4 linked regions of the Homo sapiens genome follow. The protein of the gene in region 1 purifies or fractionates together with the protein of each later gene. This does not show direct contact. Each region holds a gene or a part of one and is shown on either strand. Other genes may lie near its edges. The genes, in order: ZNF263, ANKRD52, COP1 and ANKRD17.

Region 1 (6,807 bases):
CCACATCATAAGATCTGTGTGGGTGATGTTACCAAGGGAGGGAGAGTAGATGGAAGGGGCGCTTTCCAGTCTCTGTCCACATAAACTGCCATCTTAACCAGAGTGCTTTGTAGGAACACCAGCTTTACATTCCATCCAATTCATGACATCAGCAGCCTGGCTGGCCCTGCACTGCTCCACTGGAGTGTGGTCCTGCTCCTACCACTGTTGATCCTACTCTGATCTCTCTAATCCTAACCCTCCACTTCCCTGCCCTCAACCCCCACACCACCACTGCCCTCCTCCTGTGAACAAGCTGATTAAGAGGAAGTTACAGAAATGAGAAATAGTGAGATATTAAAAAACTGGCTCAGACAACCAAAGAAAAACACATACTAAACTGAGGCAGGGCTGAGAGAAGGATCAATGGAGCGCTGTTTCCATGACTTCAAGTTGCTATATCCATCAGCCTGTTCCCAAAGGACTGTTTCTTCATCTTTTTCACCCGAAGAACAGCTGGATACCTTCCTCCGGGGCTGTATCCTGAGGTGTTTTCCTGGCATCCGATTTCCTACTCTTAGAATACTCCCCCGTTTCCCACAGATACACACTACTAGAATTCCTATTTCTGATATGCCATTCTAAAATGCAATGCTAGTAATCCCAGCACTTTGAGAGGCCAAGATGGGAAGAAGGCTTGAGCTCGGGAACTCAAGACCAGCCTGGGCAAATAGTGAGACCCCACCTCTACCAAAAAATAAATATAATGCTTTCCCTTAATAATTGCGCCATCTCCTATATCTTCCTACCATTAATAATCAATAACTCAGTTATACTGGGACCATCTTAACTTCCACCCTGGAAATCAGTTGCAAGACCAAAATATCCTGTTCTCTAAGAGTCAGATCTTCCTCAGCTACTGAGTAAGAATGTAAACATTCTAAACAAAGAATTGAAAACATTTTTACTGCTATAGACCACAGAAGGAAAGAATACTTTCTAGAGACCCTATGACAGCATCACCCCAGCAGCCATTTGGCTTGACCCTTTGTTACCACATGGCAGTCCCAGCCTGGAGGCTGCCAGGCCCTCACCTGCCTCTGCCTGTCTGCTGCCTCCTTTGTCAGCATCTTCCTGACCAACCCAGTAAGTCTATGAGAAAGCAGGGCCTCTGACCAAGGCAGAGGGGAGACAGATCAACACTCGGGGGTCTAGACAGAGGCTTTCATTGAAGACTCACAGACATTTATGTTTCCTGAAGATATTTATTCCCATCCAAACATTTTCAACAGGGAAAGACACAATCCCCAATTTCCCCCTAGGATTCACATTTTCAATTTTCCAGGGAATCTCTCTTTCCTGGAATGCTCTCGTTCCTCTGGAGTCAGGAACAAGACTCCAGAGCTGTTTATTTTTCTCACACAGGTGGGGGGAATCTCATTCTCCACAAAGGGTTATCAGACACCTACTTCCTCTGCCAATTCCTGGGCTGACCTGCAAATTCCACCTTATTATTGCCCTTGGGCCTCTGGTTCCTTTTTGTCTGAGGTCATATTTACATGTGTAATCTGCCAATGGGCACTCCTGTTAGGCCATCGTAGGGCACGTGGTGGCTTGATCTGGACTGCCCATGGCTTCCCAACTGGGGCCTTCGGGACAGCTGCAACTCACAACCAGTCTTTTGTTGACCTTCAGCTGATTTCCCAGGGTACTTGGCCCCTCTTCTTTGGTCTCAGGGGCCCCGGAAGCCCAAATGCTCCTACTGAATGTCCCAAATGAGGAAGAAGTATCAAAAACATCACATGGATTCCCAAACTTGTTAAGGTAAACTGGACAGTCAGGTGCCCAAATCGCACCTTGGCTTTAAAAAGACCAAGAGGGTAGGAGCACCCTGGGGCAGGGTGGACTTAACAGAGAATTCCACCCTGAGGTCACCTCAGAGACTTGCCATCCTTTCTCATGCAGACAGAACTCCTTTTCAGTTTTATGCCAATCCTCTGCTGCCTCTGCACCTCCCTCACAATGAGCCCCCATTACCTGAAGAATGCAGAGGTCATTTGGTCGGCTGGGCAGGGAATACCAGCTCTTGCCAACAGGCTCCTCTGAATATGCCACCTCACCTGGGGCAAAGAGAAACCCCACTGTTACTAACCTGTGTGAGTTCTCTGATGACTCATAAGACGGGAACTCCGAGAGAAGCTTTCTCCACATTCAGAACATTTATAGGGTCTCTCTCCCGTATGCGTTCTCAGGTGGCGAATCCGATTGGAGCTGTGAGAGAAGCTGTCTCCGCACTCATGACAGGTATAGGGTTTTTCTCCTGTGTGGATTCTCTGGTGCCTGATTAAATTGGATCTATGAGAGAAGTTTTCCCCACAAAGGGTACATTTATACGGTTTCTCTCCTGTGTGTGTTCTCTGATGTCTGGTGAGGTGCATGCCCTGCCGGAAGCTTTTCCCACAAGTCAAACATTCAAAGAGCTTCTTCTCTGCCTTATGGGCTCCATGGTTTGTAAGAAAGGGGGTGCTGTCACTCACAGCTTCCCCACACTCAGAGAAGGGGTAAAGTCTCTCTCTCTCATGAGTTCTTTCGTGAATGACGAGGTGTGAACTCCGAGAGAAACTTTTCCCACACTCGGGACACTTATAAGGTCGCTCTCCAGTGTGAATTCTCTGGTGCCGAAGGAGGTTGGAACTGTGAGCAAAGATCTCCCCACACTCAGGGCACTTGTAGGGCTTCTCCCCAGTGTGCGTTCTCTGGTGCCTGTGGAGGTTGGAGTTGCAGGAGAAACATTTTCCGCAAATGTTGCACTGATAGGGCTTCTCACCCGTGTGGGTGCGTTGGTGGCGAGTCAGATGGGTGTTCTGACTGAAGCATTTCCCACATTCAAGGCACTTGTGGGCCTCCTCTCCCAGGTGTGCTCTGTGTAGTGACAGGAAACGTGGGTTCCCACCAAAGATTTCAGTGCAGTCCACACCCATACACAGTCTTTCAGCTGCATGTATTCTCTGGTGCCTAATTAGGTTTGAGTTGTTAGAGAAATTTTTGCCACACAAGGGACATAAATGGAGTTTCTTTGGCTGCAGTTCCTTCGGTCGCCCCAGTTCTCTGCCACTTGAGGCTCCTGCCAAGGCCTGCTCCATTCCACCCTCTGGGGGAGGCGCCCAATCCCCTTGCGACCGGTCATGAGGTCTTCCCAGCTCAGGACTCCAGGGCACCTCCCCTCGGGCCTGGTCAGGAAGCAGCACCTGAGGGTGGATGTTCTCAGAGCATACAGACGGAACACCTTCCAGGTTCTCAAATTTCTCTTCTCCTGGTAGAGAGAGAGAAACCAAACCCGTACATTATTTCTATGCTGGAGAAAAGAAAATCCCACCTGTCTGCCGCTGCCTGTTAGGTCAGCAGCCCAGAAGGGCTGCTTCTACCTCAGAATCCCATCCTCTCCTAAAGGTAAAGCACTCTGGAGAAGCATCAGGATAAAGGGTCGGGCCACTGGTCAAGGAATCAGAGCCGAGACCAGTCTTAGAATTTTCCTTTCCACCTGAGCCTCTCGATTCTGCCCTTCAGGAATGGGTGGGATGGAGCAGGGCTGAGAGTAGGGTGGGACAAGTAAGCTCAAGAATAAGGGCCTCCTTGAACTCTGCACCCTGGGTTCCTCACTTGCCTCACTGGGATGGAGAATGGCAGGGTCAAAGGACGTAATGTACCTCTCTAGCAGCTGTGCTGGGCCGGCCCTGCACCCAAATCCTCAAATGCCTTACTCTGCTGGGGGCGGTGGCTCACACTTGTAAATCCCAGCACTTTGGGAGGCCGAGGTGGGTGGATCACCTGAGGTCAGGGAGACCAGCCTGACCAATATGGAGAAACCCCGACTCTACTAAAAATACAAAAAATTAGCTGGGCGTGGTGGCGCATGCCTGTAATCCCAGCTACTCGGGAGGCTGAGGCAGGAGAACCGCTTGAACCTGGGAGGCGGAGCTTGCAGTGAGCCGAGATCGCACTGTTGCACTCCAGCCTGGGCAACAAGAGTGCCACTCCATCTCAAAACAAAACAAAACAAAACCAAAAAATGCCTCACTCTTAACTGCAAGAGCCTTGCTGCTTGCTGCGCAGGCCACTTGTCTTCATTCCTTACCTGGAGCTGGGCCTCTGGGGCTCAGGCCCTCCTTGCAGCTCTGGACACTGGGATCCCATAGCTTTCCTCCTTGTCCCACCTGGGTGCCTGGGACCTCCTGACTGGGAATGTGAGACTCTGTTCACAATGAAAGAAACAGATTTCTGTACTGCCACTTTCCTCTACCAGGGTAGGGAAACAGTCTTGTTCCCTGCCCTCAGTGGATAAATACAGAATGCTCCATAAATCTGACAGCAGTTACTTGGAATATACACAAACTGTTCCCAGTGGATACCTCTAGAGAAAGAAATTAGGGGAGGGAGACTTTTTTTTTTTTTTTGAGACAGAGTCTCACTCTGTCGCCCAGGCTGGAGTGCAGTGGCACGATCTCCGCTCACTGCAACCTCTGCCTCCTAGGTTCAAGCGATTCTCCTGCCTCAGCCTCCCAAGTAGCTGGGATTACAGGCGTGCACCACCACACCCGGCTAATTTTTGTATTTTTAGTAGAGATGGAGTTTCACCATGTTGGCCAGGCTGGTCTCGAACTCCTGACTTCAAGTGATCTGCCTGCCTCGGCCTCCCAAAGTGCTGGGATTACAGGTGTGAGCCACTGCGCCCGGCCAATTTTTTTTTTTTTTAAATATTCATGGTACTTGGAATGTTTTTTTTTGCAATGAGAATGTACACTACTGTAATTGAAATAACTATAAAATGAACATGGTCAGTTCCTTGAATAATCCATTTAATATCATAAAAGGGCCTTGTCTCTACATATAAATACAAAATAGAACTAAATTTGACCGGACAACTCCAGGGAAAGAAAATATAACATAATAGACAATCAGAAAAGGACCCAGGGCTCTAAGAGGACCATGAGATTAAAACCCACAAGTGCCATTTCTATGCTGTGCCAAAAAGAAAAACAAAAACCTCCACCTCCAGCAAACATGGACTCCAACAGAAGTTTAATTCCAACAAGCTGTAATCTGATCTTTTCCTATTTAGCATCTCTCACTAAAAGGGCCATGTTCAACTTTGGACATCACAGCAGTGAAAAGTAATATGGAAACTGGTACAGTGGCACACTTCCTGACTAAGGCAGGAAGACTGCTTGAGCCCAGAAGTTCCAGAGCAGCCTGGGCAACAGAGTGAGACTCACTTCAAAAAAAAAAAAAAAAAAAAAAAAGGCCGGGTGTGGTGGCTCACACCTGTAATTCCAGCACTTTGGGAGGCGGGTGGATCACCTGAGGTCGGGAATTCAAGATGAGCCTGACCTACATGGAGAAATCCTGTCTCTACTAAAAATACAAAAAATTAGCCGGGTGTGGTGGCGCATGCCTGTAATCCCAGCTACTCTGGAGGCTGAGGCAGGAGAATCACTTGAACCCGGGAGGCAGAGGTTGCAGTGAGCAAGATTGCGTTTGCAGAATTAGTGTCAACAAATGTACAGTTGTGATACTTTTTAGGCAAACCTGATATATGGAAACAATGTGCGGTGTGTCTTGTTTGTTTTGAAACAGAGTCTCACTCTGTCACCTGGTTGAGGTGCAGTGGCATCATCATAGCTCACTGCAGCCTTGACCTACTGGGCTCAGGTGATTCTCCCCTCAGCCTCCTGAGTAACTGGGACTACCACCACCACACCAGTGAGTCTTTCTACTGGTGTGTTTCAACATAGGTATAATCATAATGTACACACAGTCTTGTTTTATGTTAAGACTTCCCCAACTTTTTATTAAAAGAATTCTCATACATACAGAAAAGTTGAGGGAATTGTACAATAAATACAAGCATATCCTCCACCTAAATCCAACTATATGTCAGTCTGTCATATTCCGTAGGCATAATTTTAAAACTCTGAGTACAGTACAAGACATAGGTAAATCTTAATTTATGATATGGCCTACTTTGGAGCTATACATTGTTTCCAAATTTCCACAAGACCCTCCCCACTTTCTGAATTTTTATGGGCTGTGAGAGATGATAGGCTGGAATGTTGATCCTACTACCCCTGAAATTTTTGTCTTTGGGGACGAGCCTAGAAACACTAACGGAACACAGGAAACACTGGCGAGCTCATAAGAATAAGCATCTGAAAATTGCAAGGAATCAACCATTTAGAGCCCCCCAGCATCCTGGAATACTGCATGTGTGTGATGCTGGCAGGTTGTCACCGCATTGGGTTTGCTCTGCCCTAGGAAGTGCACATGGCTCAGACTCGCCTTAGGCTCTGGCAGCTGGGACTCCAGTCCCGGGCTGCCTGTGCCAACTGTACCACTTGGCAGATACATGACTCTCGTACAGGGGACTTTAGACAAAGGGAAGTCTCCTGTGGAGGCTTCTTGGCAAAACTCAGAGTCTGTGTCCAGGAGGTGAATGAATAACGGGCAGGACCCTGGTCAGAAATGGCGCAGTCATCATCCCTGGAAAAGAAGTCCTTACCCAGTGAGTCCACATTCTCATAACTCTCCTGCACCGTGTCCCTGGAGAGGGCCCTCTTACTAGGATCCTGATGCCCCCACTCCTCCTGGGAGATGTACATTGCCACGTCCTCTAAGCTCTCAGGCAACTGAAACAGCACAAGATCTCCTTTAGCCCCTGATGCACCAAGAACAATTCAAGCAGAGTCATGGGTTAAAGGGGCAAAATCCAGGGATGCCAAGCACATGTCAGGGGGGAAGAAGGGTATCAGGCCTCCAAGTGAGGTGTGAAAT
Region 2 (8,337 bases), on another chromosome or scaffold:
CAGGGTCTAAGTTGGCGAGTCAGGTGGCTTGAAGAAGAGCAAAGGGTCCTTGTTTTAATCAGCAAGGTAAGGAAGAGCTTAAGTTCTAAGAAGATCCAGAAGATGGAAAGTAGGTATTCAGAGGCTAGGTATGTTGGAAAAATGAGAAGAGATTCTGTGCTGGGGAAGGGGCTGTAGATGCTATGCTGACCTATTCCTCCTTCCATTTCCTGTTGTTTTACCTCCTGCTCCCACTCTCTCTTTTGTCCCCTGCCCCTCAACAGAAGGTGCTGGGGCTGCTGCTGGCACATTCAGCAGATGTGAATGCCCGGGACAAGCTGTGGCAGACACCACTGCATGTGGCTGCTGCCAACCGGGCCACCAAGTGTGCTGAGGCTCTGGCACCCCTGTTGAGCAGCCTCAACGTGGCTGACAGGAGCGGGCGCAGTGCTCTGCACCATGCAGTGCATAGTGGGCATCTTGAGGTGAGGACTGTTCCCATCCAGGCCCAGCTGGGGCTTTCCCTTTTCTTACCTTCCTACTCACGTTTCCCTGCTTCTGGGCCCTCAAGCCTGAAGGAGAAGCAGCCCGGATGGTTATATAAACACTTAAGCTGAAGCACTAAATGAATGGTCAGACTAGATTAAAATTCTTAACTTGGACTTCAGGAGGTTGATAAAACCTTGGATTTTGCGTGGAAAATATTTGCATACACGCCTTTCTGAAGAGAGTCCATGTCTTTCAGCACATTTGCAAAGACTTACAAGAGTTTAAGAACCGGCCGGGCACGGCGGCTCACGCCTGTAATCCCAGCACTTTGGGAGGCGAAGGCGGGTGGATCATGAGATCAGGAGATCGAGATCATCCTGGCTAACATGGTGAAACCCTGTCTCTACTAAAAATACAAAAAATTAGCCGGGTGTGGTGGCGGCCGCCTGTAGTCCCAGCTACTCGGGAGACTGAGGCAGGAGAATGGCGTGAACCCGGGAGGCGGAGCTTGCAATGAGCCGAAATCATGCCACTGAACTCCAGCCTGGGTAACAGAGCGAGACTGTCTCAAAAAAAAAAAAAAAAAGAGTTTAAGAACCACCAGATCACCTGAAGAGACTCTCTTGTTTCCCTTAAAGTTCCAAATCTCTCCAGTATCTCCTCCTTAGTGCCTGCTTCTGCTGTTCCCTCGAGTCCTCCAGGTTGTTTTGCTCATGGAAAAAGGCATTAGGCTGCCTCAGCCTTTTCAGGAGATGAGGCCTCTGCTCTTAGGTAGGTTGAGGGCACGAATCTAGCTCTGAACAGGTGTCTTTCATATCCTGATGCAGACGGTGAACCTGCTCCTCAACAAGGGAGCCAGCCTGAATGTCTGTGACAAAAAGGAGCGGCAGCCTCTGCATTGGGCAGCTTTTCTAGGTGAGAGAGAATACACGGGAAAATCAGAAATTTGACATTTAGGATTCCTAGGGCAGGGATGTGGGGTTGCAGCCTTTGAAGAGAGGAGTGTAGGGTCTTAGAGTTTACCTTCTACTTCCTTTAGAGTGTCTTCTCTTTTCTCAGGGCACTTGGAGGTCCTAAAACTGCTGGTGGCACGGGGAGCAGACCTCGGCTGCAAGGACCGCAAGGGCTATGGGCTGCTCCATACAGCTGCTGCCAGTGGCCAGATTGAAGTGGTGAAGTACCTGCTTCGGATGGGAGCGGAGGTCAGGGCTTTGAGCTCTGGGGTTGGGAACTATGGGCAGCAAGTAGGAGATTATAGTCTGTTACGGAGATATGAGGTATTGGGATGTTGGTATAGTTTTGGGAAGTTGGAAGGACGTGGTAGAGAGGGTCTGAATAATGCTTACCTTAGCCATAGTGCCCTTAGTACCTTAGTACCTTGGGTCATAAACCCGAGAGGAAATGAGGCAGTCGTTGGATTTCTGGGATCTGGAGGCTACATGTGCTGGCTTCTACTTTGTTTAAACTGATACCACCTTACTCTCACCCCTGAATATCCAGATCGATGAACCCAATGCTTTTGGAAACACAGCTTTGCACATCGCCTGCTACCTGGGCCAGGATGCTGTGGCTATTGAGCTGGTGAATGCCGGAGCCAATGTCAACCAGCCGAATGACAAGGGCTTCACGCCACTGCATGTGGCTGCAGTCTCCACCAATGGCGCTCTCTGCTTGGAGCTACTGGTTAATAATGGGGCTGACGTCAACTACCAGGTGCCTGAAGGGATAAGGCTTAGACCAGTGGGGAGCGAAACTTGGATCTAGGGGTCCTGACTGTATCTGGATAGCTCTCTTGGGGAATTATCCACTTGCTTCCTAGGGTAATCAGACCTTGCCAGGGACTCAGGAAAGAGTGGGCTAAGAAGGTGCCATATGACCCTTTTGTCCTTAGAGATATGTCCTTGGAAGGGAGGTAGGGCATTCTCTGTGCTTTGCACTGGAAAAAAAAACAAAAACAAAAACCCACCATGTTTCCACAGAGCAAAGAAGGGAAAAGTCCTCTGCACATGGCTGCAATCCATGGCCGTTTCACACGCTCCCAGATCCTCATCCAGAATGGTATGGACCTGGGAGACTTTGTGCTCTCATCCCCTCCTCCCCCAAGGAACTCATTTCTAGAATCTAGGGAGGTTCCTAACTTCCTTCTCCTGCCCTCTTCCAGTAGGATAGGCCCTTGGAACTCTGACCAAGGGACCTGTGGAAATGGCCCTGCTCTGCCCTGCCCAGTCTCCTAAGGCCTAGAAACAGGATAAAATATGTAGAATCCTGGGCCTGGCACCTGATGCATACATAGTAGGCACTCAAATCATGGCTAGCTCGCGAAAGTGGTCTTAAGCCTGAGGTCTGCCTGAGCTTGTGTGTGTGCATCCCCTCACAGGCAGCGAGATTGATTGTGCCGACAAATTTGGGAACACGCCACTGCATGTGGCTGCTCGATATGGACACGAGCTGCTCATCAGCACCCTCATGACCAATGGCGCAGATACCGCCCGGTGAGTCAGGGCCCCGACTCCACTTCTGGGCTGCCCAGATCTGCACAGACTGCTCACATCAACCATGGAGGCACAGATAAGCTTGCCAAAGGGCACCTTGGAGAACCTCCTACCCTGACTCTAGGGTGGTGGTAGGTCACAGAAGAGGTCTTACTTGGTCCCTCCTTGACCCAAGGACTGAGTCCCTCAACTTCTCTCTAGGCGTGGCATCCATGACATGTTCCCCCTGCACTTAGCTGTTCTCTTTGGATTCTCTGACTGTTGTCGTAAGCTTCTTTCCTCAGGTATGTGCTGATGGGCTGGGGATTGGCAGGTGTATAGGAGAGCAAAGGCCTTTCCCTCCCTGCTGAACACTCTCAGATGTGACCTGTGGCTGTTCTGTGCCTCCAGGTCAGTTGTACAGCATTGTGTCTTCACTCAGCAATGAGCATGTGCTTTCAGCTGGGTTTGACATCAATACACCTGACAACCTTGGCCGTACCTGTCTTCATGCTGCTGCTTCCGGAGGGTGAGTTCTCTTTCTCTCTCCCATGCTTTGAGCAGGGAGCTGGGCAAAGGTCTGGGCCCCTCATTCTTGCCTGCCCAGATCTATTCCCCCTCTCACAATGAAAGCAGTCACAGCAGAAAGGGCTTGCTAGTCCCATCCTTCCTTAGCCCCACCCTGGGCCTGTGGCTTCCCTTTGAGGCTGTAACTCTCTTAACACATCTTTCTTTTAGGAATGTTGAATGTCTTAATTTGCTGTTGAGCAGTGGAGCTGACTTGAGGAGGAGGGACAAATTTGGCAGGTATGCTAATATGCAGGGGTAAACATAGGGAATATCTGATTAGAGAAACAAATGGTAGAGGGAGGAAGGGTTTAGATTGGAGACTTAAATAAGGAGAATGTTACAAAGCAGCATTTGGCTGCACATCTGATTGCATTCGTATCTGTCTCTGATTCTCTTCCCCACCCTCCTTCACTTCTTCCCCAGGACCCCACTGCACTATGCAGCTGCTAACGGTAGCTACCAGTGTGCAGTAACATTGGTGACTGCTGGGGCAGGTGTCAACGAGGCCGACTGTAAAGGCTGCTCTCCCCTCCACTACGCTGCCGCTTCTGACACTTACAGGAGGTGAGGCTACCAGTCTGGTCCTTCTCAGCCCCATTCACCTCCCTGAGCCTGGCCCTAACTTTCTCTCTCTCTTCCCCAGAGCGGAACCCCATACACCTTCCAGCCATGATGCCGAAGAGGACGAGCCACTGAAGGAGTCCCGCAGGAAGGAGGCCTTCTTGTGAGTAGCAGAGAGGGCCCCTGGGATGTGCTTTCCCCAACCCATGCAAGCTCTGGCCCTACTGTCCTCCTACCTAATCTGAACCTCTACCCTATACTGCTGCTGTCCTGCCGGTCAGCCAGCAGTGTGTCTTGAGCCCTCTGGGTGTAGTCCATAGTGGGCAAAGACAAAAGTATGAGATTGAAGCTCAGGAGCTTCAGGGGGAAAAAAAAACCCAAAAGTATGAGACATAGTTCCTTCCCTAAAGGAATGGATTTTTTTTTTTTTTTTTTTTTTGGAGACAGAGTCTCACTCTGTTGCCCAGGCTGGAATGCAGTGGTGTGATCTCAGCTCACCGCGCCCGGCTGGTCTTCTTGAGAGGATTAGAAAAGCTAAATGTACAAAATAATTTGTTTATTCCACAAGCATTAATTAAATATTTACTTACTAGGTTCCAAGTACTGTGCTAGATACTAAGGATAAAAGATGAGGCTGGGCGTAGTGGCTCAAGCTTGTAATCCTAGCACTTAGGGAGGCTGAGGTAGGCAGATCACCTGAGGTTAGGAGTTCAAGACCAGCTTGACCAACATGGTGAAACCCCGTCTCTACTAAAAATACAAAAAATTAACCAGGTGTGGTGGCACACGCCTATAATCCCAGCTACTCAGGAGGCCGAGGCAGGAGAATTGCTTGAACCAGGGAGGTGGAGGTTGTAGTGAGCCGAGATCACGCCACTGCACTCCAGCCTGGGCAACCGAACAAGACTCTGTCTCAAAAAAATTAAAATTAAAAATAGGCCGGGTGTGGTGGTTCACGCCTATAATCCCAGCACTTTGGGAGGCCGAGGCAGGCAGATCATCTGAGGTCAGGAGTTCGAGACCAGCCTGGCCAACGTGGTGAAACCCCGTCTCTACTAAAAATATAAAAATTAGCTGGTCATGTTGGCAGGCACCTGTAATCCCAGCTACTCGGGTGGCTAAGGCAGGAGAATCACTTGAACCAGGGAGGTGGAGGTTGCAGTGAGTCAAGATCACACTAATCCACTCCAACCTGGGCGACAGAGTGAGACTCTGTCTCCAAAAAAACAAATAAATAAATAAAATTAAATAAAAATTTAAAAAGGATGAATTGTCCCAAATTTCTGTCTTTCGAAAGCTAATAATCTATTGGGAAAGATAAATAAAAGGACACTTATGCATACTAATGTAAGATGTTAATGACGGGAAACTAGGTATAGGTTATGTGAGAACTCCCTGTACTATCTTCACAATTTTTCTTTTTCTTTCTTTTTTTTTTTTTTTAATTAATTTATTTTGTAGGTCAGGGATCTCTCTGTGTTGCCCACACTGGTCTCGAACTCCTGGGCTCAAGCAATCCTCCTGCCTCAGACTCCCAAAGTGCTGGGATTACAGATATGAGCCACCACACCTAGCCCACAATTTTTCTATAAATCTAATAATATTCTAAAACAAAAAGTTTATTTTTTGCTGGGCACGGTGGCACATGCATATATTCCCAGTTATTCAGGAGGCAGGTGCAGGTAAGGCAAGAGGATCATGCAAACCCAGGAGTTTGAGGCTGTAGTGCACTATGATCATGCCTATGAATAGCCACTGCACCCCAGCCTGGGCAGCCTAGTGAGACCCCGTCTCTAAAAAAAAAAAAAACCCACAAAAATCAGGTAGGCACAGTGACTCATGCCTGTAATTCCAGCACTGAGGTGGGAGGATTGCTTGAGCCCAGGAGTATGAGACCAGCCTGGCTAACACATAATGAGAACTCATCTCTATTTTATTTAATTAAATAAATAAATAAATTAATTAATTTATTTATTTATTTGAGATGGAGTCTTGCTCTGTCACCCAGGCTCTAGTGCAGTTGCGCGATCTCAGCTCACTGCAACCTCTACCTCCGGGGTTCAAGCGATTCTCCTGCCTCTTCCTCCTGAGTAGCTGGGATTACAGGTGCCTATCACCACGCCCAGCTAATTGTTTTTTTGAAGACCGAGTCTCACTCTGTTGCCCAGGCTGGAGTGCAGTGGCATGAACTTGGCTCACTGCAACCTCCACCTCCTGGGTTCAAGCAATTCTGCCTCAGCCTCCTGAGTAGCTGGGACTACAGGAGCACGCTGCCACGCCTGGCTAATTTTTTGTATTTTAGTACAGACGGGGTTTCACCATGTTGCCCAGGCTGGTCTTGAACTCCCGAGCTCAGGCGATCCACCTGCCTTGGCCTCCCAAAGTGCTAGGATTGCAGGCGTGAGCCACCACGCCCAGCCTAATTTTTGTATTTTTAGTAGAAACAGGGTTTCGCCATGTTGGCGAGGCTGGCCACGAACTCCTGACCGCGGGTGATCTGCCCACCTCAGCCTCCTAAAGTGCTGGAATTAAAGATGTGAGCAACCGAGCCAGGCCCCTGTCTCCATTTAAAATAAGTAAATTAAATAATTTTTTTTTAAGATTTATTTTTTTAAAAAGGACACTAAAATCCAAGAGGCTCAGCTATTACCTTCAGCAAGTTACTTCTCTATGCCTCAATTTCATCACCCACAGTAAGGATAAAAATAGTATCTACTTCATGGGATCTTTATGAGGATTAAATTATTTAATATACATGAAGTACTTAGAACTGTGCTTGACAGTAAGTGCTACTTTATTATTATTACTACTACTACAACTACTACTAAGGTATGAGAAGACTGCCAAGGGAGCACAGAGGAAGAGGCATCTTCCCCAGGGAAGGCTGGGAAAGGCCTCACAGAGGAGAGAAGCTGGGACTGAGTTTGAGATGAACAGGACTTATTCGGGTGGGCTGGGAGGAGAAAGCATCCTAGGGCAGGGGTTGGCGTGCCTGGAGGTGGGGAAAGCATGTTGGTCAGCAGAAGGCTGATAACTGAACATCATGCTCTAGGTTCTCTAGGAGAGCATTCAGAGGATAAAGGAGGGCATTGAAGCCAGAGGGGTTCAGGGCAGACCTTGAGAAGGTAAAGTGGGTCTGGAGCTGCCATTGAAGAATGGGTAGGATTTAGAGAACCTACCTAGAGCTGAGGACGGGTGGCGGCCAGGTAGGCCTGGAGGGCCTTGGTCCTCTCCTCTGGCCCTCCCAGAACTGTGCCCTCCTGGGCTGGGCCTGTCCCTGCCTCACAGTCTACCCCCGGCTCCCCAGCTGTCTGGAGTTCTTACTGGATAACGGTGCAGACCCCTCCCTGCGGGACAGGCAGGGCTACACAGCTGTGCACTATGCAGCCGCCTATGGCAACAGACAGAACCTCGAACTGGTATGTGTTGGGGCCCGGCCTGCAGGAGGGGAGGCAGGGGCAGGGCACAGGGTTTGTGGATTCCAAAACTAAGGGTTCAATCAAATGTGGTCTTTGGATCCAGAGGCTTAGTGGGGATTACTGCGAGTCGGGGACTGGGGTACTATCTTGGGAGTTCCAGAGTCTCAGCACCTACTTTCCTGTCCTTTGCAGCTCTTAGAAATGTCCTTTAACTGCCTGGAGGATGTGGAGAGCACCATTCCAGTCAGCCCTTTGCACTTAGCTGTGAGTCCCACGTCTTTTTTCTGTTGCCTTCCTTGTCCTACCTGTTCCCAGGCCCTAACAAAGGTGCCAGCACTTGTGAAGTTATCCTTCCTTCTGCCTTTTTGTGGGAGAGGGGATAAGCACAGTGCAGGGTAGGAAGCCTTAAGGGGCCCAAGGAGCTTGTCAAGGACTAAGACCTTGAGCTTCCCAGGGACCCCAAGAGCAGAGAAGGGGAAGGGAGGAGCAGGGAAGGTCCCGAGCTGTGTGCACTGGTTGCCTGCACCTTGCCAGGCCTACAACGGTCACTGTGAAGCCTTGAAGACGCTGGCGGAGACGCTGGTGAATCTGGACGTAAGGGACCACAAGGGCCGGACCGCACTCTTCCTGGCCACGGAGCGCGGCTCTACTGAGTGTGTGGAGGTGCTTACAGCCCACGGCGCCTCTGCCCTCATCAAGGAGCGCAAGCGCAAGTGGACACCCCTGCACGCTGCTGGTTAGTGCCCACTTTAGGCTGCTGCCCTACCCTTGCCATGCCAGATCCCTCCTGGATGGGAATGGGGCTGGAAAGTGGAGTAGGGTGAGGAGAATGGAGACTTCAAGCCCTG
Region 3 (8,337 bases), on another chromosome or scaffold:
CATAAGTGAAAAGTTTGAGGCAACTCCACTTTATAAAACCCAGTAGCATAACTGTCTCATCAATATACTAAATATGCTTAAATATTCATATATAAATGTATTTTGTAGACAGCAATTCTACTTTGAAATAGTACTTAATTAGAGGACCATATAGGCCACTATCCTTTACCTGTACCAATTCTTTTTCTCCCTCCCTATTAAAATACCAGCTCAGCTTAATGTTTATCAAGCTTATACTGCACATAATCAATAAAGAAAATGAGACAGAATGCATATTTTGGAGGAATTTCCAGTCTTATAGAAGAGATATGAACAGACAATATGATAATGGTTATAACTGAGATATGCACTAAATGCTATGGGTCACAGAGGGACATTATGACACCATGACATTGCTCTATTACTATGCATTTCAATCACTACCTAAAATGCCTATTGTCTTTGGTGACACATTACAAAGTTTTTTAAAAAGTACATACCACATACCAATTTATATTTTAAAATTTAATCAAACCCTGTGTATACATAATGCATAATATGAGATCCCAAGGTGAAAAAACTGATATGAAAACTTACCCCATCTGGTAGTGCCCTCCAGCACACAGCACTAACAAATTCATTTGTATCATCTTCTTTTCGGTCTTTGTCGAGAACACTTTTGACTGTATCAAACTTAAAAGTTAGCAAAGTCTTAGAAAGTCCTTTATAGTACAGGTAGAGAGAGTTATTTTCACTTCCTGAAAACAAATAATAATAATAGTATTTTAGAATAGAAAAACTCGGAATTAGGACATCACAGTCTAATAGTAATTATCAGCCAAAGTTATAGTTCAAAGATCTTTTATGGGCAAATTTGAAAGGCTAGATCACAGGACTAATTAGAAATCATGTAAGAAAAGGATTCTTGGACAAAAGCTATACTTTACTAATCTAAAGAAACAATCAGTGTTAAATGATACAACAATACTGATAATTCTAAGGCTAAAATTACCCTATAAAATCATTTATAGAGGTTGGTACAAAAGTAATTGTGGGTTTTGTCATTACTTTTAATTACTTTTGCACCAGCCTAATAAGTCTATAGTAGAACCAGAAATATATTATAAGAATCTTAAATTACATTTAGGAAGATTTCCATTTAGAGAGGTAAAAGAAAGTGGCAACACTTACACAGGCAGATTTTCATAGCCTACATAATTTATTTCCATTTCTCAGTATAGGAATTATTCTATTAATGGTCTATGAACTGTATTTTTATTTTTGAGCCATCTATTAAAGATAGAATAATTGTTCCAGATATTTGCTTTGGCAGTCTCATACATATGTGGAGAAAGTCAACTTTGCTGAACAAAGGCCAAGTCATTTAAAAGTATGATCAAAGCTCATCTATTCAGGCATTAGATGTATCAGAGCATTTGAATAATATCAAATTTGATTTTTCTATTTCTTATTTAAATTTGTATAAATTATCAACAATAAAAGCCATAGAATAACAGATCAATGCTATGCAAACAGATTACTTCATGAAGAGAACAGCAGATAGGGGAAAATGAATATCAAGCTTAAGAAGACACATAATGTCTCCAAAATTGGAAATATTACTAACAGAACTTAACCTTTTCTGTCTTCTACACAATATCTAAAGAATTATGTTATAATGGAGAACAACTATAAAACAGTTAAAAATCAGGTGTTCAGGTATTTGAGGTGTTCAGGGTTTCTACACAATAAAAAAGGGAAGGACTAATGCTCTTCTAGTACAACACAAGGAAAATCAGTAGTGCTGGGGCATCATGTCTATTATACTATCTTCTGAGTGCACAGACCATTTCTTGACTTAGTATTTATTCTATTTCCACTGAGTTCAATTTCAATAACAAACACCTGTTAAAAAGTTCCTGGAAACGATGGTTTCACTTACCACAAGCTATATAATCTCCATTGGAAGCCAGGCCTACAAAGTTTTTTTCATTGATATGACCCTTGAAGGAACGTAGGCAGTATGGTTTCCCTACATTCCACAGTTTTAGCTGACTGTCTGTTGAGCTGAGGAAAAGTACAAAGAGTAAGAACTTACTTAAAATTTCTTGGCACGAAACTCATCACTACTAATTAGAGGCAATGCAGTTTGCTGGTTAAGAATGCAGGCTCTGGAGCCAGACTGAGTTAGCACGTTCATCTGTCGGCCAGGCGTGGTGGCTCACGCTTGTATTCCAAGCAATTTGGTAGGCCGAGGCAGGTGGACCACCTGAGGTCTGGAGTTCGAGACCAGCCTGGCCAACATAGCAAAACACCGTCTCTACTAAAAATACAAAAATTAGTCGGGCGTGGTAGCACGTGCCTGTAGTCCCAGCTACTTGGGAGGCTGAGGCAGGAGAATCACTTGAACCTGGGGGGCAGATGCTGCAGTGAGCGGAGATCACACCACTGCACTCCAGCCTGGGTGACAGAGCGAGACTCTGTGCCAAAAAAAAAAAGTTTTCTTTTCAACATATTTAAAGTCACCATGAAATCACAGATAAATGACCATGTCAGTGTAAAAGCCAACCAAGTAATATTTAAAACCAAAAATAATTCTACTACTATACTGCAAGTAGATAAAATACACAGTAACACATGAGTTGACTTTAATAAATAAAATACTTCTCATTCTATTGCATCAACTATGTTGTTTATCTCTTCTTTAGAAGCAATAGCTAAAATCTAATCTGAAGTTCAAATGCAATTAAACATAGGAGGATGAGATAAGGGGGGAGGGTATATAAAAAACTAGTATCTTCAGGATTTTACCCACAATTCACATATAAAAGTGCACAATACAGACCAGAAACCACACTACTTTAATTGGACAAGATTAAAAAAAAAATCTACTATTTAAGAAAAAGTACATATACTCCAATATTATAGTTTACATACACCCTCAGTGACATTACAAGCTGGTAGGTAAGTACAGAGCTCTGTATTAAGCTCAACCTCTGAGGAGAGTAATACTCACGCAGAGACAATTTCCTCACCACTCACAAACTTTGCATAAGAGACTGCTTTACGGTGTCCTTTGAATACCATGATTGGCTGTTTAGTGTTACGAAGATCATAGTAGTGGACACAGTGATCTAAAACAAAACAAAATTAGATAAATGTAGTAAATGCAGAAATGGAAAGCAAAGTTAATTTTAACTGGTTTTTGGTTTTTTCATTAAAAGTTTCACATATGATGTCTAATCTCTAACAGCCAGAAAACAAAGGAAAAGGAATCCTTTTCAAATATAAGATTGGCTCTAGAAAGAGAGTATTAAGGGGTCAAAATAACTGGAAACTTAAAAATCAATCTTTGTTTTAATGATGTCATGAAAAAAATGTTAATATAAACATTATGGGACATCTGGATAAACATAATGCTATATAATCTTATTTCCCATATTTGTTTTAAAAAACCATTATTTAGATATATTTTGCATATAATAAAATACACACACTAAAAATATTGTATGCAATTCAACGATCTTTACTAAATTTAACCAGCAGTTCAACTATTACCATAAATCAGTTTTAGAGTATTTCTGCACTCCGATAAGATCACTCATTTGGCATCCACCATCACAGGCAGTCTCTATTCCTGTCTGTCTCTATCACTAATTTCTACTCTAACCTTTATTATTTCCTTCCTTCTGCTTGTCTTCAGTTAGCTTTGTTATTCTTTTTAAAGACAGACACTTAAGGATACACAATTCTCTATCAACACTGCTTTGGCTGATACCACAAATTGTGATATGATGTGTTTCCATTTTCATTCAGTTTAAAATCCTTTTACATTTCCTTTGTTATTTCTTCTTTGACTAATGGTTATTTAGTAATGTGTCATGTAATTTCCAAATACTTGCAGATGTCTCAAAGTAACTATTGTTGATTTTTAATTTAATTCCATTTTGGTCAGAAAACTGTTTTGTATGTCTTCAATCATTTTAAATTTATTGACAGAAAACTGTTTTGTATGTCTTCAAGCATTTTAAATTTATTGACTTATTTTTAGTCTTAAATATGGTGTCCCCTGGAGACTGTTACTAACACTTGCTTGAGAAGAATGTGCATGCTTCTACTGTTGGCTGAAGTGGTCTTTGGATGTCTGTTATGTCAGATTGACAATGTTATTCAAGTCTTCTAAAACTCTGCCAATTTTCTGTCCAGTTTTTCTATGAAATATCAAAAGTGGAGTATTTTTCAACAACTTCAGTCAAAATATCTGTTTTTCCCTTAAATATCACAGATTTTCTTTTCATATATCTACAAAAAGTTTGTTTTGAGGTGTGTTGATAATTGATGTATCTTTTCACTATTGATTCTTTTACCATTATAAAATGTCTTTGTTTCTAGTACTGATTTCTACTCTAAGTATATTCTGTTCGACCTAAATATAGCCATTCTACCATTTTTCTTGACTACTACTTACATGGTATATCTTTTTCCATCCTGTTACTTTAACCTATTTGTGTCTGTGAATCTAAAGTCTATCTCTTGTAGACAGCATAAAGCTGGATTCTAATTTTTTTTTTTTTGTAAACCCATTCTGCCAATCCCTGAATGTTACAACATTCAACATACTTACATTTAATATAATTATTAATAGGTTGCACATCTGAAATCAAAAAATCCCAAATCCTTGCTTTTGGAGTGCCAACATTTCAATCAAAGCTCCAAATGCTTCTTCATTGGAGCATTTCAGATTTTGGATTTGAGATGCTGAACAGTAAGTACAATAATACATACTTAACAATGGAGATACATTCTGAGAAATGTATCATTCAGCAATTTCATCACTGTGTGAGCATACAGTGTACTTTCACAAACCTAGATGGTATAGACTACTACACACTTAGGTTATGTGGAATAGCCTATTGTGCTCCTATGCTACAAACCTATGTATCATGTTACTGTACTGAATGCTGTAGGAAACTGTAACAATGGTAAATATTTACGTATCTAAATATAGAAAAGCTACAGTAAAAATAAGATATAAAAGGTAAAAAATGGTACACACCCATACAGGGGACTTATGATGAATGGAGTTTGCAGGACTGAAAATTGTTTTGGGTGAGTTAGTGAGTGGTAAATGAACATGAAGGCCTAAGACGTTAACAGTATACCTAGGCTACACTAAATTTACTGTAAAAAAGTGTTCTCCCTTCAGAAATAAATCAACCTTACCTTACAGTGATTTTCTGACTTTATAAACTTAAAAAATTTTTAAAGCTTTTTGACTCTTGTAATAACACTTAGCTTAAAACACATACATTGTACAGCTGGACAAAAGTATTTCCTTTTTACATTTCCTTATAAGTTAAAAAATTAAAATAGGAAAAAGCTTTTTAAACTTTTTTGTTAAAAACTAAGAAACAGAAAGTTAGCCTAGGTCTACACAGGGTCAGGATAATCAATATCACTGTTTTCACCTCCACGTTTTGTCTCACTGAAAAGTCTTCAAGGGTAATGATATGCATAGAGATGTCATCTTCTCTGATAACAGTACCTTTTTCTGGAATGTCTCCTGAAGGGCCTGCCTGAGGCTGTTGTATAGTAACTTAAAAAAACAAGTGTAAGAAGTACAGTCTATAATAATGGTAAAAAGTAAATAATAAACAAGTATATAGTTATTTATTATCTTTATCAAGTATTGTGTAGTATACGTAATCGTATGTGCTAGACTTTTTGAACATTTTTAATTTTTTTTGAGTATTATAGTTGGTATATACACTTATGTGGAATATGAGATGTTTTGATACAGGCATGCAATGCATAATAATCACATCATGGAGAATGGCGCACCTACCTCAAGCATTTATCCTTTGTGTTACAATCTAATTATACATTTTCAGTTATTTAAAAATGTACAATGGGAGGTGGAGGCAAGATGGCCAAATAGGAACAGCTCCAGTCTACAGCTCCCAGAGTGAGCGACGCAGAAGACGGGTGATTTTGCATTTCCATCTGAGGTACCAGGTTCATCTCACTAGGGAGTGCCAGACAGTGGGTGCAGGAGAGTGGGTGCAGCGCACCGTGCGCGAGCCAAAGCAGGGTGAGGCATTGCCTCACTCGGGAAGCGCAAGGGGTCAGGGAGTTCCCTTTCCTAGTCAAAGAAAGGAGTGACAGACGGCACCTGGAAAATTGGGTCACTCCCACCCTAATACTGCGCTTTACCGACAGGCTTAAAAAATGGCGGACCAGGAGATTATATCCCGCACCTGGCTCGGAGGGTCCTACGCCCACGGAGTCTCGCTGACTGCAAGCACAGCAGTCTGAGATCAAACTGCAAGGCGGCAGCGAGGCTGGGGGAGGGGCACCTGCCATTGCCCAGGCTTGCTTAGGTAAACAAAGCAGCTGGGAAGCTCGAACTGGATGGAGCCCACCACAGCTCAAGGAGGCCTGCCTGCCTCTGTAGGCTCCACCTCTGGGGGCAGGCACAGACAAAAAGACAGCAGTAACCTCTGCAGACTTAAATGTCCCTGTCTGACAGCTTTGAAGAGAGCAGTGGTTCTCCCAGCATGCAGCTGGAGATCTGAGAACGGGCAGACTGCCTCCTCAAGTGGGTCCCTGACCCCTGACCCCCAAGCAGCCTAACTAGGAGGCACCACCCAGTAGGGGCAAACTGACACCTCACACCGCCGGGTACTCCTCTGAGACAAAACTTCCAGAGGAACGATCAGAGAACAGGACTTGCGGTTCACGAAAAGCCGCTGTTCTGCAGCCACCGCTGCTGGGACCCAGGCAAACAGGGTCTGGAGTGGACCTCTAGCAAACTACAACAGACCTGCAGCTGAGGGTCCTGTCTGTTAGAAGGAAAACTAACAAACAGAAAGGACATCCACACCAAAAACCCATCTGTATATCACCACCATCAAAGACCAAAAGTAGATAAAACCACAAAGATGGGGAAAAAACAAAGCAGAAAAACTGGAAACTCTAAAAAGCAGAGTGCCTCTCCTCCTCCAAAGGAACGCAGCTCCTCACCAGCAACGGAACAAAGCTGGATGGAGAATGGCTTTGACGAGTTGAGAGAAGAAGGTTTCAGATGATCAAACTACTCTGAGCTACAGGAGGAAACTTAAACCAAAGGCAAAGAAGTTGAAAACTTTGAAAAAAATTTAGACGAATGTATAACTAGAATAACCAATACAGAGAAGTGCTTAAAGGAGCTGATGGAGCTGAAAGCCAAGGCTCGAGAACTACGTGAAGAATGCAGAACCCTCAGGAGCCGATGAGATGAACTGGAAGAAAGGGTATCAGTGATGGAAGATGAAATGAATGAAATGAAGCGAGAAGGGAAGTTTAGAGAAAAAAGAATAAAAAGAAATGAGCAAAGCCTCCAAGAAATATGCGACTATGTGAAAAGACCAAATCTACGTCTGATTGGTGTACCTGAAAGTGATGGGGAGAATGGAACCAAGTTGGAAAACACTCTGCAGGATATTATCCAGGAGAACTTCCCCAATCTAGCAAGGCAGGCCAACTTTCAGATTCAGGAAATATAGAGAACGCCACAAAGATACTCCTCGAGAAGAGCAACTCCAAGACACATAATTGTCAGATTCACCAAAGTTGAAATGAAGGAAAAAATGTTAAGGGCAGCCAGAGAGAAAGGTCGGGTTAACCACAAAGGGAAGCCCATCAGACTAAGAGGGGATCTCTGGGCAGAAACTCTACAAGCCAGAAGAGAGTGGGGGCCAATATTCAACATTCCTAAAGAAAAGAATTTTCAACCCAGAATTTCATATCCAGCCAAACTAAGCTTCATAAGTGAAGGAGAAATAAAATACTTTACAGACAAACAAATGCTGAGAGAATCTGTCACCACCAGGCCTGCCCTAAAAGAGCTCCTGAAGGAAGCACTAAACATGGAAAGGAACAACCCATACCAGCCACTGCAAAATCATGCCAAATTGTAAAGCCCATCGAGGCTAGGAAGAAACTGCATCAACTAACGAGCAAAATAACCAGTTAACATCATAATGACAGGATCAAATTCACACATAACAATATTAACTTTAAAGGTAAATGGACTAAATGCTCCAATGAAAAGACACAGACTGGCAAACTGGATAAAGAGTCAAGACCCATCAGTGTGCTGTATTCAGGAAACCCGTCTCACGTGCAGAGACACACATAGGCTCAAAATAAAAGGATGGAGGAAGATCTACCAAGCAAATGGAAAACAAAAAAAGGCAGGGGTTGCAATCCTAGTCTCTGATAAAACAGACTTTAAACCAACAAAGATCAAAACAGACAAAGAAGGCCATTACATAATGGTAAAGAAATCAATTCAACAAGAAGAGCTAACTATGCTAA
Region 4 (8,337 bases), on another chromosome or scaffold:
TTCTGGAGTTGATAGGTGAACATCATCTCCCCCAACCCCATTAAAAATGCTATAGTATTAAAGTATGGGCATTTATCTTTGACTGGTCAACAGTACTGTGGATGTGTATTACCAAAGTAGTTATCAACTACATCAGACAGAAAACAATCATGATTCACAACTGGATCTGAAACCAGGCAAAAGAGATTATGATCCTGTCAAGAATAAAACTGAAATTGATCTTATTATAACAATTATAAACATAATTATGAATTAAGAAATCTATTTTACATGAAATCCTTAGTTCAGGCACAAACATACACTATACATTATAGCAACACACATTCTATAATTATACATTTTTAAGTCCACTTAAAAGCCAAAGGAAAAACGAAGGAGAAAACAAAACAAAACAAAACAAAACACTGTTTGAATCCTTAGGGATCCAGACCAATAGAAAAGGGCATATACTAATATATTAAATTGATAATCTAGCGATCTGGATATTGTTACTCCATATTGATAGTTTTGTATGTTACGAAAAGATCAAGATAATTTAAATGTACATATTGTTGATATACATTTCAAAATCATATAAAATCTAGAGCTCTTTAAATTGATTCCATATCTCCTTTGATTGGATTTTCACAATAAAACTGCTAAATACAAAAAGTAGCTTAAACAGGATGAACACCAGTCTGTCCGAATCACTAAATTTTATTTCATAATACTAAACAGGTTAAAAAAAATCTAAGTTTTATTGTTAAATGACTAAATTATAATTTACATTTCAACTGGAATATTTTCTTTTAAAGAACCTACCAAAATTACAGAGTTTTTTTTTTTTTTTTTTTTAAGTCAAATTGGTTGTTCTTATCACCTCATCTAAAAGGAGACAGGAAAAATCAATTATCTCATCATTTCCTTCGGGGTACCTATAAAATTGGTTTACTAAAATTAGGTGACTGTCAATCACACATCCATTCTCTACAACTAAAAGAAACAAATGTAAAATATGTAGGTACCTGAAGGAACTCTGGTAAAAATCTTTACATGTGGGGCTTCATTTTAGTGTTAGATTTAGAGAGGGAGAACCACACATCAGAAAAGTTTTAATGTCAGCATAGAAAAAAGGGAACTTGAAATGATAGCAAAGGCAAGGTGTTGAGACAGGTTAAACAGGGAGCTGATTCTGGTTTGGCAAGTGTGAAGAACAGGAAAGACAGACGATTTTGGTCAGCAAATTTTATGGTAGAAGTCTAATAAATGAAGCCTAAGAAATAAAGAGCAGGGACTGTGCTAGAGGGAGGAAAAGAAGACGATGAGACTAATGAGGCTGTAATATACTTTAAACCCCTAAGAAAGAAGTGGAAATCATCATTAAGCAACTGAAAGGATACATCCTACCACAGAAATTTAAGATTGAGGCTGCAAAAGTCAGTGCATGAGTATATGTGCATGTGTGTGAATGTGCACATGCCTGTTGTCAGGGATGAGTTGCAGGTAAGTAGCCAAATGTTTTCAATCCTACTCTTCCTCCTTCTGGCTATGTTTCTCTCCCCATAGAAATGAGCATAATAAAAAAGTAAAATATTTTTGTATTATGACAAGCATCTGTCATATTTCCTAAAAAGTTATATGCACTTAAAATTTTTTTATACAGAACACTGAGAATACACAGAATTGTTTTTGTTTCATGTATGAATCAAAAGAAAAGATACTTTACAAACTTCTGATAATTCTGATCAGCATACAAAACTGTACAACTAGCAAATCATTGTTGACAACTATGCATGCCCAAGCACATCAGGTAAACTCTGATATTATATAAAAAAAATTTTTTTAAACAACCATTACTGTGTAATACCTATTCTTCATTAAAGTGGATACGTAATATTTAACTCTATACATCCTTTAGTAGTTTCACATGATAGAGCACTATTATGATCTGAATTCATATGGACATAGTATCAAATTTAGGGTTAATGGTTACTGTGCTCCAACTTTCACAGGATATTTAATAATTTTAAAAGTTTACTCTCAATTATTATAATCAGCTAGTCATGATTAGTAGTGACTTTCAAATCTATAGAAAAATTTTGCACTCATCAATAAGAGTCGTACAATTCTTACTAGTAATTATTACTAGCATTTTTCCAATGTGGTTATTTAACCCTTAAGACTAGCAGAAATTTTCATTCCACATGTTATAACTACTGAGGTGCTATTAAAGGCGGACTAGCAAACTTTACAGATATTTTTAAGTATAAAATCTATCTCAGCTGGATTCTTAGTGTCTGAACGTTACCTAAATATCTAAACACTATACAGTTTAGTTTCCTATTATCCATTTAAAAGATGAAACTTAAAAAAAAATAAGCTCATCATATTTAATGCTACTGAAACAGTTTTTAAATTAGAAAAAGTCAATCATCCTCTAAGTACAGATGAATGAATAAAAAAGGGGAAGAGATCAGATGGAAGTCACCAAAATTCCACTGTTTATTCCTTTCATTTTTCTGTTTTCCTTCCTTTTCAAATTTTCTTTTTTTAATGAAGCAAATTATCCTTCTCAGTACAGCATTCTTATGGTTCACAACCCTATAAAACCTCATCCCATTACTTTGTTACAAAACACAAAAAATAAGTACCAAAAACTAGAAGCATAAAAACAGTCTTCTAAAGTGTATCTTCTTGTCAATGAAACTAGTTATAATCGAATAAAATTTATCTGGCTACACATCTAAAAATATATCATTTATGATACTTTCAGGGGGGCCACACCTTCTCATGATACAGTTAGAAAGAGACTACACATTAACATTCACAGGGGACAAAATCACTTACATACAGTATAATTAAACCCTATTTGGTTTTGAACTTTATTAATTTTGTAAAAGTGTTTTTTTTTTTAAATATCCATCAGGTTTGAAGTCTGATCCATTAGGATATAAAGTATTTCTGTTCATAAATAAGCTTCCTGATGTGTCCTACTAGTTTTGCACTTCAACTTCTATCAATTTCCCAGTTTATTGGTGTGAATACAGAAGCAAAATGCCAAAATTCAATCTCAGTATTCTGAACTTAAAGGAAAAAAATGAAAACAAAAACAAAAATCAAACATCAACCCCACTACTGAAAAACCTAGATTCTCAAGCTACCAAGCTAAGCCAGAAAGCTTCAGTCATTTGTACTGAATGAGCTAATCTTTAATTTGACCTGTATCCATCTGAGAACTTCTGAGATTGAACTAATACTTCTAAAGCTAGACATGAGTCAGTCCAAAAATAGTTCTCAAGTTGGGTAACGGCAAAAAATTTGGGTACATTCTTACTCGCCTTAAGCAAATCATATTTGATACCTGCTCATAACAATATAAACCCACCTGCCATGATGTCATCCAGCGTGTCATTGAGGGTCTGAGCAGGGCTGGCTACCATTAACCCTTGTTGTGTTTCTGTCAGAATTCCTTGCCCCAGCCCTGCCAACTGTGCTTGGCCCAGTACTGGCTGTCCAACTATCACTCCTTGCAGTTCTGTAAGATTTGCGATGGACCCTGGAGGCAAGGGACCTGCCGCCAGAGGCAAAGCTTGAGGCATCGCCAGAGGCTGGATTGGCGCAAAACCCATCTGAGCAGCAGTCTGCTGGGGTTCATCTTTAAGTAAAACAGGATCCACTTGCTGTAACCGTGCATAGTCTCCCTCAGAAAGCTGCTCTCCAACTCCAACAGGAGTTAGTAATCCCAGGTGTTGGCAAGACTGTTGCTGCTGTTGCTGAAGTTGAATTCTTTGAGCTTTAACCTCTAGATACTGCTTTTTTAGCTGCTGCTGAGTTTTCAGTTGTAACTCTCGTTCTACTTTCTGTAGTTCCTCCAAAATCTTTTGTTTCTTCTGAATTTGTTCCTCCCTTGTTTTGTTGAGCTCCTCGATCTTCTCCTTGGTAAGTTGGTCAGCATGAGCCAGTTCCAAGGACTGCAGCTGTGCATTCTTTTCTATGGCTTCTTTTATCCTCTGTTCCAGTTCTGTTAACTTTCCCTGAGCCTCTTCTACAATGCTCTCTGGAGACTGATTGGTGATGTAACCCTGTACATCCTGGCTGTTTGCTGGCAAATGGCTGCTGGACTTTTGTTTAGAAGCAGCTGTGTGAAAAAGAAACCCCCTCAGAAGTGCACATGAATGGCATCCTCATTACAGAGTTACTGTTGGGAGGTTTAGTGCCAACAGTTATGCACTAAGTAATCATATCCATAACAGGTGAAAATGCACTGTTAAAAAATTAAAAACAAATCCACCTTCTTTTTCACAAATATAAAATGTATGTATTTTATGTGCAAAATCTTTGTAAATTAATTTCAGAATCTTAAAAATAGCACATGGCTTAAATTAGACAATAGAGGAATGCAGGTTTGTGATATCTAAGTGTGCAATTAAAGTAACATCTAAGGCTATGTGTAGATATTTTATATGGTCATAAAGATGTTAAAACTCATCATAAGAACAGAACAATAATGCTAAATTATTAGGGTGAAGAGGAAACAGACCTCTAAGTCAGGTTTTTTCACATTTCATAGTCTGTGCCTTTTAAACACACACACATACACACAAAAAGTACCCAAACCACTAAGAAGTAACAAGAAATTAAAATCTGAGTAAAATATATGTCTTTGTTGGGGCCTACCATCTTCAAGACTAATAGAGGCAAGATATAAATTCACATATTCACACAGCTATCTGGCCAGTAGAGAATTGGGATTCAGTTTCCCTGGAAGAAAAGATGCTGGACTATGCCATCCACTGTATCTTCTGACAGCCAGGTGAACAGACAGATCTGGCTATAGGTATAGCAATCAATTGTTTGCTATACCAACTGAAAAAGGTGCCAAGGCTCTAGGTTGATAGTAGTGACTGAAAAGAGCTGGTGAAAATACTTAGCATTCTTGTTCATAAAAGAGTATACGTAGCCAAAAACCAAAAAATAAAAACTGCACTGTTTCTTCAGGTAAAACTTTTAAAAAGAAAAACTGATTCAAACCGGTAGGTATAAAATGTTTGGGGACATTACTTAAGAACACACATGGTGTAACATACACAAGTCAAATATGGACCTCAGAATTCTAGAGAAATAAACAAGCATATCTCAAGTAACTGAATTATTGGTTGAGAAAAGGTATCCCAGATCAGATATAAAATCTATATTAAGCCAGTCATTCTAAAATAAATTTCTAATATTTGATACATCTTGTTAATTTATGCCTTTATAACTGCAGAGATTTAGGTAAGTAATTTATAAAAATATTGCTCAACTATACCCAGCTTAACATTTTACATGAATAAAAATTACTATTAAAGGAAATCATGGATAATCAGAACTGCATCAAAGATGAGCATCTGAATTTCTCATGCTAAAACTTCTAATTGTAGCACAAATTAGTGCTATTAACTATTTTTTTCTCCCAATAACATGCTTTTATCATGGGTTAAAAATTTAGTAATGCCAACTTAGTAAACTTCTTTGTTTGTAGAAATGTCTATTTTTTGGTAATCTTATTTTTACCTGGACACCAAGTAAGAAACAGTCTTTAGAAGTATAACTGACCTTTATTCCTGATGGGAAGAGTGGTGGCAACATTGGCAGGTGGTTTGTCAGGCTCCTGAGGTGGAACAACCATGGGCAGTGCTTGAACTGGTACACGAGGAGCCTAAGACAAAGGACACTAAGTGACTATTAGTGTCCTACACAATCCATTAAGTAATATGCTCTAAATAAAGAATAAATTAGAGATTTTTTGACAATATTTTTAATATGTCATCTTAGACAATGACATATTTACTTAAAATATGTTGGCACCAAATTGTTTACCACGACATTTTTTAGTAGGCTTTGAATTCAAGTTGTGACCTTTAAAAGCTAAAGCATAATCATATCATCTAGGATCTGAATATTGTACCAGATGTTCATTAACTGTATCAAGTACATATTTACAAACAGAACTACATATTAGAACAAAAAAAAACCCTAATTTAAACAGAAACTGTAAGTGAAAGAATTAGGATAAAGAAGACATACCATAAAATGCTTTAATTTTTAAAATCTTACCCTATTTAAATCGTGGGATGGGGGAGTTAACTGAGTGACATCTGGTGGAGGGGCTGAAAGCAAGTTATTAGGATAATCCAAGAGATAGCAAACAACACTTGTATGGCCACCTTTTGCTGCTTCTATCAACATAGTTGAGCCATCCTAAAAGAGTGAATATGGAAGGGGAAAAAAAGTGAAGAAAAATAAGTTAGTTTACAGAATCACTTAGGAAGATAAAGCCAACAGGTCCCAGACGCATTAAAATCATAGGTTTGGTAAAGAACGCTTCAAGTGAAAAAGGAGAAAATTTACACTTAGAATGCCATTATGAATGGAACTTGTACATGATATGTTGTAACAATGACCAAGAGAGAAATACTAATTCACAATTCTGCACAAACATTTGAGTTACATACTTTCAAACGGTGAGTAGGATCTGCCCCATGAGCCAAAAGTAGTTCCACCACTGCCAGATGACCCCCTGCACAAGCCAGGGACAGTACAGTATGGTCATTATTAGCTGTGGTTCTATTCACATTCGCTCCTAAAACAGAAAAGGCATGGAAAATCATATTAGTAGAATGGTTTTTCTTAAAATTATGGTAAATTTAAAAATCATGAAGAGTAGAGAAAATAGTATTATGAGGCTCCACATACCCATTACCGAGCTTTAATGATTATAAACACAAGGCCAATCTCATTTCACAAATATCCTACATTAATTCTCCTCTCCCATCTTGGATTATTCTAAAGTAAATAAATCCCAGACAAACACGATATAATTTGAAAAGGTTTGAGTATGCACCAGTAAAAGATACCAAAGTACCCATTACTCCTAATGTAATAACTGTATTAAAAGTAAAATATGAAGTTTTATTTGTATTTTAAGTTCTTCAGTAGAAAAGATGACTGAATAAAAATAAACTATACTGCCCTCTATGGGCTTTATGTAGAGAATAAACACTAAATAGAAAGAATAGTACCATTTTTTTTCCCATTAGTAAATTCCTGACAAGGAAAATAGATAATTCACCCCTATTCCCAAATAGGAATGTATCCCTAATTTATTCGTTTGTTGTTTTCGTAGAAATGGGGTCTTGCCATGCATGTTACCTAGGCTAGTCTCAAACTCCTAGGCTCAAGTGATCCTCCCACCTTGGCCTGCCAAAATGCTGAAATTACAGGCATGAGCCATTGCACCTGACCTCTATCCCTAATTTGGATTACTGTGCTAGGTAATGTGAGAAATGGAAATAAAACAGCAGAAAGAAACTGAAATCAAACTCATTAAAATTAACCAATGAGAGGGGACAGCGATTATGTACATAATGCTATATATTCATAACAGTATTCTAAAGCATATCACCAGTGCATGGGAAAATGTTGAAAGTAATTTCGCCAGTAAGTTATTTCAAATTTTCTTTACCTATAAACAATTATAAACTTGAGATTTCGTTACTATTATTATAATGTGAAGAAAATGGTATATTATTGCCTTTTAAAATTGTATATGGCCTACATCTTTTTTTTGTTTTGAGACAGGTTCTCACTCTGTCACCCTGGCTGGAGTGCAGTGGCACAATCATAGCTCACTATAATCTTGAACTCCTGAGCCCAAGTGCTTCTCCTACCTCAGCCTCCCAACTAGCTGGCACTACAGGTGCAAGCCACCATGCCCAGCTAATTTTTTAATTTTTTGTAGAGACAGAATCTCACTGTGTTGTCCAGGCTAGTCTTGAACTACAAGACTGAAAGGACCCTCCTGACTCGAGGTCCCAAAGAGCTGAGATTACAAGGGTGAGCCACCACACCTGGCTTCCTCTTTCTTTTATCAATGCAGAATCAAAAATAAAATCTGTAATCTCTTATACTTAAGAATATGATGAACTCTGAATTGAAAACTGTCTCAACTAGAACTTTCCTAGTAAGCACGTTAAGAAACAATTTAAAGAAAGTAATAATATACTCCCTTTTATTTTATTTGGTCATTAAGGTCTTTGGTATTCAAACTAAAATTTCTGATCATGAATGAAAATCCTCATGCAATTTGCTATATTTGTCACATTTCTATTGTGAACATTTTTTGTACTATATTTATAACCAGCTCCCTGTATTTTATAAAAAAGGAAACATAGAAGCAGGGAAATAGTAGAAATGTTACTTGCCACAAACTTTTTTAGTGGCAGAAACATCATAAAATTCCAGGTTTCAAGAAAGTGCTATAGTACATGAACACAGCAGAGTTTGTTACCTAAATCCTCAGTTTTTACACAGAGAAAT

Evidence for each region.
Region 2: the proteins of ZNF263 (region 1) and ANKRD52 purify together in Homo sapiens (affinity purification with mass spectrometry; 2 studies listed by BioGRID and IntAct, with this or other methods). This does not show direct contact.
Region 3: the proteins of ZNF263 (region 1) and COP1 purify together in Homo sapiens (affinity purification with mass spectrometry; 2 studies listed by BioGRID and IntAct, with this or other methods). This does not show direct contact.
Region 4: the proteins of ZNF263 (region 1) and ANKRD17 purify together in Homo sapiens (affinity purification with mass spectrometry; 2 studies listed by BioGRID and IntAct, with this or other methods). This does not show direct contact.

The regions. Positions count from the first base shown.
Region 1 is NC_000016.10:3,285,878-3,292,684, reverse strand, and holds the end of ZNF263 (zinc finger protein 263), read right to left. Parts: intron 6,663-6,807; coding exon 6,536-6,662; intron 4,232-6,535; coding exon 4,115-4,231; intron 3,293-4,114; coding exon 2,127-3,292; 3' UTR 1,225-2,126; downstream 1-1,224. UniProt on the Homo sapiens protein: Transcription factor that binds to the consensus sequence 5'-TCCTCCC-3' and acts as a transcriptional repressor.
Region 2 is NC_000012.12:56,247,911-56,256,247, reverse strand, and holds part of ANKRD52 (serine/threonine-protein phosphatase 6 regulatory ankyrin repeat subunit C), read left to right. Parts: intron 1-263; coding exon 264-464; intron 465-1,295; coding exon 1,296-1,383; intron 1,384-1,527; coding exon 1,528-1,670; intron 1,671-1,968; coding exon 1,969-2,181; intron 2,182-2,447; coding exon 2,448-2,526; intron 2,527-2,845; coding exon 2,846-2,960; intron 2,961-3,161; coding exon 3,162-3,244; intron 3,245-3,350; coding exon 3,351-3,468; intron 3,469-3,677; coding exon 3,678-3,746; intron 3,747-3,932; coding exon 3,933-4,073; intron 4,074-4,152; coding exon 4,153-4,233; intron 4,234-7,377; coding exon 7,378-7,489; intron 7,490-7,681; coding exon 7,682-7,753; intron 7,754-8,023; coding exon 8,024-8,225; intron 8,226-8,337. UniProt on the Homo sapiens protein: Putative regulatory subunit of protein phosphatase 6 (PP6) that may be involved in the recognition of phosphoprotein substrates.
Region 3 is NC_000001.11:175,986,367-175,994,703, forward strand, and holds part of COP1 (E3 ubiquitin-protein ligase COP1), read right to left. Parts: intron 3,114-8,337; coding exon 2,996-3,113; intron 2,047-2,995; coding exon 1,922-2,046; intron 738-1,921; coding exon 577-737; intron 1-576. UniProt on the Homo sapiens protein: E3 ubiquitin-protein ligase that mediates ubiquitination and subsequent proteasomal degradation of target proteins.
Region 4 is NC_000004.12:73,136,167-73,144,503, forward strand, and holds part of ANKRD17 (ankyrin repeat domain-containing protein 17), read right to left. Parts: intron 6,602-8,337; coding exon 6,474-6,601; intron 6,220-6,473; coding exon 6,076-6,219; intron 5,678-6,075; coding exon 5,575-5,677; intron 4,118-5,574; coding exon 3,365-4,117; intron 1-3,364.